Linked DNA regions of Homo sapiens: region 1 is linked to region 2. Evidence: fine-mapped expression QTL. A gene starts in region 2. The other region holds a variant in brackets. All regions are shown on one strand. Distances are from middle to middle. Region 1 has its middle 3.6 kb from the start of BTNL3. Region 2 holds the start of BTNL8 (butyrophilin like 8).

Region 1 (4,405 bases), 86 kb after region 2:
AGATTTGTATCTCTGTGCTTGAACTTGAATGGCCTTAAACCTGTTTCAGCTTTAACAGTAGAATTTTACTTGGGCAATATTTGCCCATTCTGGTGTAACTTATGTGACCCTAGTGCTTAACAGCTGCCGTCGAAGCTAATATTCTTATTCAGTTCTGTAGAGTCAGAATACCTTTTGTTGTTGAAGATGTGCAATGACTGTTGAATTCACTTTTGTGCCATTTTTGTAAATACAATAATTTTGCACAACCTCTCACAAATGCCTATATTTATTTCACATACTTAAAAAGTAGATAATGTGCCAAGCAGAAGCACAAGAGGTCCTACACAAAACTCTGTAAGTCATTATAGCTTTTGTATAATAAGAGTAGTTTACAATCTCGGGCTTATAGAATACCAAACTGAAATCTTAGTTCAATCTGTCATAGACTTAAGCTTTTCATTTGTTACTAATATCCATGGCATTCAGTGGCCTTGTGCAAATACGATATGTTGCTTAGGAATATCTTTTGTCCTATGCAGAACCTTTCATTTTGATTTTTATGAAAGTTGCAATTCATATAATTTATATAAACTTTTTAAATGTAGAAACTTTTTACTTCCACACTCAACTTTGGAGACACTAGAGTAAAAGGCTTCAATACTCTGCATTCTATGCCCCCTGCCACCTGCTTTTTCCCTTTTGTTCTTCGACTCAAATGGTATTGGGTTGTTTGTTCTATACGAAAGCATAGGTGTCTATATCCTTACTCTTTTAAATAACACAATAATGATGTTTTCCTTCTAATTTCTCAGTTGTTAATCTCTCTCTCTCTCTCTTTTTTTCTTGAGATAGGGTCTTTCTCTGTCACCTAAGCTCTAGGGCAGTAGTGCAATCATAGCTCACTGCAACCTTACTCCTAGGCTCAAGCTAACTATTCTTAATCCTTTATTATTACCAATATTCTACAATTGTTTAAATAAAAGGAACTTTATAATCAAACAGTACAGAATACTGGCTCAAGAACCTATGTCAAGATGAGCTGAATTTTGGTACATTATTTTAGGAATTATGACAAGCTAATAGAATTGGGCTTGTGACAATGAGAGTAATTCACATGACAGGTAAAACTTACTCATATTAAAAATGTTTAGATATTTGCTTCTATAGATGTCACTTTAATAAAATAACAATTTAGTTTTACTTGTGGCTTACCTAGTTAGCAAGAACTTTAACAGACTTTATTGGGACAAGCTTACTGCTCTTGTAGGAGCTCCTCTCACAAGTAGTTGTAATGCTGTACCATGATACTCAGGATCAGTAACTTCAGATGTTACTATCTTTCTCTTCATCTTTGACTTGCAGAGAGCCTCCTCTTTTTGGATCCAGGCATCTTTTCTGAATCCTGGTTCCATTAGTATACCTGCTCTCCTATGATCCCAAATCATAGTCAATGGTGCCTCCAACATAGCACCTTCAGTTAAAGGCTGCCTAGTGCTCTGAGGAAAGCTTACTGATTATCTTCCTGCTCTACTCACCCCGAAAGGCAGAAAAGCAACATAGTCACTCCTGTGCTCATTTGTAATTGTAAAGATCAGAGATATAGATATTTGTAATGAGAGCAAGTATATACTCATTATAGGATCAATTTAAGAAGTTTAAAATATCCCAAAGTAGAATTTCTATATCTAGTCTTCTGGGTTTTTTTCACGAATATTTGCAAGTGATTACGCTTAACTTCACACATGAAAGATTAATCTGAAAGGTCAGAGAGACCCTGTTATTCCTGACCACGATAGAACTGCTCCTGTGGTTTGGGACAAGTAACAAAACAACTGCTTGAGTTTTGTTTGTAAAATACACTATTAATATTTGACCTACCTCAAAACGTATTGAGGATCTGTGAAACACTAAGTGCCCAAAATAAAATATTGCTGATTGTCTTTTTATTAAAAGTAAATTTCCTCATTAAGCCAACCGGCCTTCTGTAAGTCACAGTGC[T/C]CAAGTCTCAGGGTTTGTCATTAGGAGAGGTCTGTCGTTAAGGATTTGTAGGTGTAATTGCCTAGCCTCCATTATTGGTGATTGCGATAGAGAGGTTTTACATTTTTCTGTTTTTCATCCTGCCCCAAAGCTCAGTTTATTGAAGACATTTGTAAGCTATTGGATCATCACTTGAATCAAGATTTTGACTAGTGAGCCCAATTGTCCCTTTCTTATTATTTCAAAGCTATAGTCTGAGAAATGGCTAATTTTAATAACTGTCCTATCATAAATTAATGTTGGAATAAACTGAAGTTGGAGATGAAGACTTCATGAAAACTAACTAAAGTCTGAAATAAATCACCTGTTTTATGTCCAATAGCTACTGCCTTTGATAGAACAGTTTTGAGGAACATTTCATTCTTGAAGGCAGCATCCGACATGGTTCTCAGCAAATTGGAATAGTAAGGATTGTTGGGTTGTTTCGATGAGTGGAAGCAGCGTTTGTAGCATAAAAGTTATTCAATAATCTTGTGCTGTTGACCTGAAAATGTGTCTTAACTATTCATCAAGGCAAGCCTGGTGAAGCCTTTACTTGTTACTACTTCAACAGTTGGAATTAGTTGCTCTTTTTACTTGATGAAGCAAAACTATACCTCTGAATATTTATGGATGCTTTTTACAAAATCAGGCTTGTGTTCTTAATCCGAATTAGTAAAGTTTTATGGAAGCTGAAATGTAATACAGTAGTCTCCCCTTATCTGCAAGAGATACAGTCCGAGACCCCTAGTAGATGCCTGAAACCTCAGATAGTACTAAACCCTGTATAGTCTATGTTTTTTCAATCTGACAACCAAGGCGGCTACTAAGCGACTAAGGGGCAGGTTGTATACAACCTGTGTGGATAAGCAGGACAAAGGGATGATTCACATCCCAGGCAGGACAGAGGAGGAGGATCATGAGATTTCATCACTACATGGCTTGTGATTTATTTTATTATTATTTTTTTTTTTTGAGAGGGAGTCTCGCTCTATCACCCAGCCTGGAGTAGTGGTGCGACCTTGGCTCACTGCAGCCTCTGCCTCCTGGGTTCAAGCAGTTCTTCTGCCTCAGCCTCCCAGGTAGCTGGGAATGCAGGCGCCCGCCAACATGCCCAGCTAATTTTTGTATTTTTAGTAGAGACAGGGTCTCACCATGTTGGCCAGGCTGGTCTCGAGCTCATGACCTTAGGTGATCCGCCCTCCTCGGCCTCCCAAGGTGCTGAGATTACAGGAATGAGCCACAGTGCACAACCAGCTTGTGATTTAAAACATGGTTTATTTCTGGAATTTTCCACATAATATGTTTGGACCAAGGTTGCCTCGGGTAACAAACTATGGAAAGTGAAATTGCAGATAAAGGGAGTTACTGCTGCTGTGCTCTAAAATTGGTGTTTGGGTGATCAGGAGTGGGTAGCCAATGGGAAGAGGTGATCAGGAGCAGGTAGCCAATGGGAAGAGGTGATCAGGAGCGGGTAGCCAATGGGAAGAGGTGATCAGGAGCGGGTAGCCAATGGGAAGAGCACTTCTGAGTGATCACCAAAGCAGTTTCTTTAGTGGTCTTTTCACATTCTCCAATGTTCAAGCATATTTTCCACTTTCCATTTTCTATTTCACCTCATTTTGCCTCATCATCTGCCATCCCTGCTTATTTCTTAAGCCTACTGATGGCACTCACTAAATTGTGTTTAGGGCTAATGAATCATTGTTCCTTAATATCCTTTTCAATATGCCACAATTTAGAATGCATTTAAAATTTTCTAAAACAATATCCTACTCTGAATATTAACTAATTTGAGCCACATTCCCATCTCTAACTCAGCACAAAGTGCCAGTCTTCCCCAATATCTCCTCTCAACTCCCCACCGCACCTTATAAAATTGGAATCAGAAATCTCACTCTGTCATTGCTCATCTTAGAATAAAAACACTGATTTTAATACTGTTTTACTAGTTTCAGCCTTCTAAGTACGTAGGCCTCTAGGTATTCTGCAGATCACTGGTGGTCTTGATAGCCATTCATATATGTTCGTATTATGTTATTTTTCAACTAAATCGCAATTGGAAAAAAACATCTTTAATATTATGCCCTTGGATCTGTTACTTCATTACTAATACTTGTGATGCAATAGGACACTTCACCTGTACTAAAAGGGCCAAGAGTAAATGTCTTGTTTTGTTGTTGTTGTTAAACATGTCTACAGAGTTGGCAGTTAATGCTGAATTTGTCAAATAGCTCTTCCAAAATTATACTTGTATTTAAAAAATAAATGGATCTACCTAATTTCTATTCATCTAATTTGCAGTTTTGTCTTATTAAAGTGGTATGTTTTTCAATGTATTTTTTTCTGAAGTTGATCTCTTTACATTTCAGCTATTACTGTAGGCAGAAAGAAATTGACTTGTAAT
Region 2 (4,405 bases):
GTATATGTGCCACATTTTCTTAATCCAGTCTATCATTGTTGGACATTTGGGTTGGTTCCAAGTCTTTGCTATTGTGAATAGTGTCGCAATAAACATACGTGTGCATGTGTCTTTATAGCAGCATGTTTTATAATCCTTTGGGTATGTGCCCAGGAATGGGATGGCTGGGTCAAATGGTATTTCTAGTTCAAATCTTGCTGACTTTTAAAAATGTTATATTATTATTATTATTATTATTATTATTATTATTATTTTGAGATGGAGTCTCACTCTGTCAACCAGGCTGGAGTGCAGTGGCACGATCTCGGCTCACTGCAACCTCCACCTCTCAGATTCAAGTGATTTTCCTGCCTCAGCCTTTTTGGGGAGAGTCATGTTTCTTTGCTTTTTCATGTTTCTTGTGTCCCTGTGTTGATATATGTGCATCTGGTAGAACATTTGCCTCTCCTAACTTATAAAGTAGCTTTTCTAAGAAAAAACTTTCACTTGTTGATAGGTCCTCGGGTGCTGAGTAGGGTGTATCGGCTCTGCTTCTGGCTGGCACAGTAGCGTAGTCTCTGTGAAGCTTCTCAGCTATAATCAATGTCAGTGACAAGTGGATGCCTCAGTGGCCCGTACTGCAGTAATTTGTGGGAGTGGTGGTAGCAAAGTAGATTACACTGAGCTCAGGCACCAAGAGAGCACAACTACTCCACCAGCTCAGGTACAGCTTCCCTCGGGTGGGATGCAGGGCTGGTTTGTGTGCTGAGGGAATAAGACCAGTGTTCTGGCTTGGGCATAGCTTTTCTGGAGGTGGGGCACCAGGCCGCTTTATGTGCCAAGGGAGCACAGCTGCTCCACCATCTCAGACATTGCTTTCCTGGGGCTGAGTCTGGGGCCCCCAGTTAGTGTGCACACAAGGGGGTATTGTTGCCATTCTATTGCGCATGCTTCTCTGGGGTCAAGGTGCTTGGCTCATGCTTGAGAGGGTACAACTGCTTCACCAGGCCAGGCTTGGCTTCCTTGCTGGGTTGGACTGTTTGGTCCTTGGGGGCCAGAGCAGCCTGTAGGTTCAGAAGCCTGGGTCATGACCGTTCCACTGGGCCTAGGCCTAGGCTTCGAATGGCCATGGGTGGGGCATAGCTGCCACTGGAATGGAGAGGATACTGTGCCTTCTCAGCAGCTTCATAAAAAGGTATTTTGGTCTATATATCCTTGGTAAATCTGTATTTCTGAGACAGCATGAGATCAATAATTTTCTATTCTACTCTCTTGCTTACAACATTCAACAACTCATTTCCTTTTTTTTTTTATCACAGAGTAATATTCCATTGTATAGATGTACCATAGTTTGTGTATACATTCTATGTATCATTATTGAATGATATCTGGTTGCAAACATTTTTGGCAATTATGAATAAAGCTGCTATAAACATTCATGTGCAATTTTTCATGTGGACATATGTTTTCAAGTCATTTAGGTGAATAAAAAGCAGTGCAGTTGCTGGATTAGGTGATAAAAGTATGTTTAATTTTGCAGGAAATTGCTGAACTGTCTTCTAGAACAACCGTACCGTCTTGCATTCCTGTCAGCAATCAGTGAGAATTCCTGTTGCTCCGCATCCTCACCAGCATTTGGTGTTGTCAGTGTTCTAGATTTTAGACTAAATGCAGTGTTTTCATTTTGTCCTATTCTAGATGCTAACTTTTATTGTGATTTAGTCTCGTGAGTTGTTTTAAATTGTTACATAAGAATTTCTTAGTGTATAGAGTTTCCTATGTTTTTGAATTACTTTTTAATTTTAATTGCATTATGATTAGAGTATGTTTATTTTGATGGTTATCTGTGGAAATTTTCATTCTGATCTAGTTAAGTGGTGACTTTGTGAGTTTCCGTGTGCTTAAAAAGACTGCAAATCTCTCATTGTGGCTGCCCTGGAACTTAGTTTATATAATAAATAAGTTTCCTCATGTCTGAACCTGCCCAGGCACCTTTCCCAATGTATCAGATGTTTAACACTAAGGATCTGTTTTGTTCTGGAAAGTTATTTTTATCTGGCCTCATGATTACAGTCCTGGCCCTGAACTTCAGAGAATGGAGGGGTAAGCAAAAGGACCTCAGACTGTGCCAGGAAATGTCAAGTCACCTGCTGTAGGCTACTACTAATGGAGCATGGCCTATTTACTTGGACACCAAACTATCCAGTGCTAACATGAGGTTTTTCAGGACTAGATCCCATGGCCATACAGCCCTGCCTGCCAGATTGGACGTGAAAAGTATTTCCGCATCTGACATTCCTGTTTCACCCACACAGGGCATCGTTTTGCCCAGGACAAAGTTCACCTCCAATCTTATCCACACTATTTCTATCTTTGCTTCCTTGATAAGATATAGACATTTATGCAGTGGTTCAAAGTCTAGAGTCCCTACACTTCTGGTACATGACAGCTGTGTCTCGATGGAGTAGACTCTCAGAACAGCGCAGTTTGCCCTCCGCTCACGCAGAGCCTCTCCGTGGCTTCCGCACCTTGAGCATTAGGCCAGTTCTCCTCTTCTCTCTAATCCATCCGTCACCTCTCCTGTCATCCGTTTCCATGCCGTGAGGTCCATTCACAGAACACATCCATGGCTCTCATGCTCAGTTTGGTTCTGAGTCTCCTCAAGCTGGGATCAGGTAAGACTCATCTTTGTTTCCTCCTTACTAACTAACAGTTTGAGTTCTTTAGCTACAATGGTTGCAGCATAATGGAATGAAGGCATCTTTGTCGTTTCCATTCCTTTGGCTTCTCCTAGCCTCAGCCTGGGGAAGGATCAGGCGCTGTGGAAACAATTATAGTAGCCCCCAAATAATGGAAACACGGGTGTTGAAGACGCACCGTGATCGTTGACGGGGACACACCTAACGTGTTAAGGTGAATAAATTCAGTGTTTCTCCCAGATGGGCTGAGTGGTGTAGGCAGGGTTATTGGAGCACCAAGGTTGCTGACATGGATGTCCATCTGGGAAGAGACACAGTTAGGATTTTTGGGGAAAAGACAATGTATCCAGCTAAAGACATGCTGAGTTAGAAATGTCTGTGGTATGAGACACGAGGGTGGAGGAAGGTGTACAGGTCTTGAGGTGAGAAATTAGCTGAAACCTGGCATATTCTGGGAAGAAATCCACTCTTCTTTCTCCTTCCAGTTACTGTTAACACAGAACCTAGTATATAGGATGTTGAGTGACTGAATACAATTCACAGAGGAAGCTTGAGGTTGGGGTAGAATGCTGGTGGCTAGATGGTCAGTACCCAGCCACAGAAGATTCGATTGACTGTGTTCACTTTCTGTCTGTGAAGGTTCATCCTGCCACCTGTCCACCTATATCTTTTTTGCTAAATGAAGCTAAGAAAACAGAAATAAGGGCAATCAAAACATAGAGCATGTTTCCTTAAAACAAAAACCCATATGTGTTACTAACAGGAGACGCTCTCGTTTCAGTTTGTTTTCATTTATTTTCTGACGAGCTTCTTTGTTTCCCTTCTGTTTCCGGGTGAGGCAGCAGGACATCCTGGAAATGATCTTGGAGACAGAAACATTTTATTTTTAAAAACTCTTATTTCATTTTCTTGTGAGCTTTATTGTTCACAGCTTCCTTAGGTGTTGGTTTGCTTATGATGACATGGAGATACGATCACATTCCTGCTGGGGCTGTGGTGAGGACTGCATGAGCTTGTGCATGTAGAGTGCACACAGCTGCACGGGTGCATGGCATGTTGCAGCAACAGTCTTGTTCCTTTCTTATTTTCAAGGGAAGGAAGTGGAAGGAGTGAAAGGAGATGTTATAGGCAAGAGAGGTGACAGCAGCAAGGGCTGGCCGGAGAAATGGAGGTACCCTGAAAAATGTTTCCTTGCCTCAAGAGCCCCACACAGCCCTGAAGGCAGCATCCATAGCAGCCCAGCTGGCATACGCTGGGTCCCCAAACCTGACCTAAGACAAGGGCCTTCCTGCCAGTGATTCGTTGAGCAGGTGATTCTGGGAAACAAAGTGAGGGAGTGGAGAGAGTGAAGCCAGTAGGGGGAAAGCCATAGAGGGTGCGCTAATGAGCGTTGCTGCGGTGGCAACTGGGACCCAGTCCCACTGGGACCTTTGGAGGAACTTTATAGATGGTGGCTCAGAGTCATTCCAACATCTACTGTCTCCTTTCCCCACTGGGTGAGATGTGCCGCCCAGGACTGCTAAAATCGCAAACCTTCTGAGCTGCCTTGTGCCAGGGCTAAGTAGGTTCCAAGGGTGGCAGGAAGCCCTCAGCAGAGAGGCAGAGGCCAGGCTCCAGGGACGGAGCTGTCAGCAGGCAGGGAAATGCCCATCCCACTGCAGGGGGACTCAGGGTTGGGTGGTGAGGAGCAGGGCCTCAACATCTGCTACACCAGGTCAGAAGCTGGT

What was found. PIP is the estimated chance that this variant, and not a neighbour inherited with it, causes the effect. A credible set is the group of variants that fine-mapping cannot tell apart.
Region 1: its variant is the best candidate, but not a certain one, in a credible set for the expression of BTNL8 in spleen (GTEx, PIP 0.56).

Annotation. Positions count from the first base shown.
Region 1 is chr5:180,983,091-180,987,495 of GRCh38, forward strand. It overlaps the pseudogene ARPP19P1. Among named protein-coding and RNA genes, the nearest start is that of BTNL3, 3.6 kb to the right of the region's middle. The variant T/C (reference allele first, on the strand shown) is at 1,981.
Region 2 is chr5:180,896,706-180,901,110 of GRCh38, forward strand. It overlaps BTNL8 (butyrophilin like 8), which reads left to right and starts at 2,454. Exons shown (of 8, transcript NM_001040462.3): 1 at 2,454-2,654. The coding sequence starts at 2,606.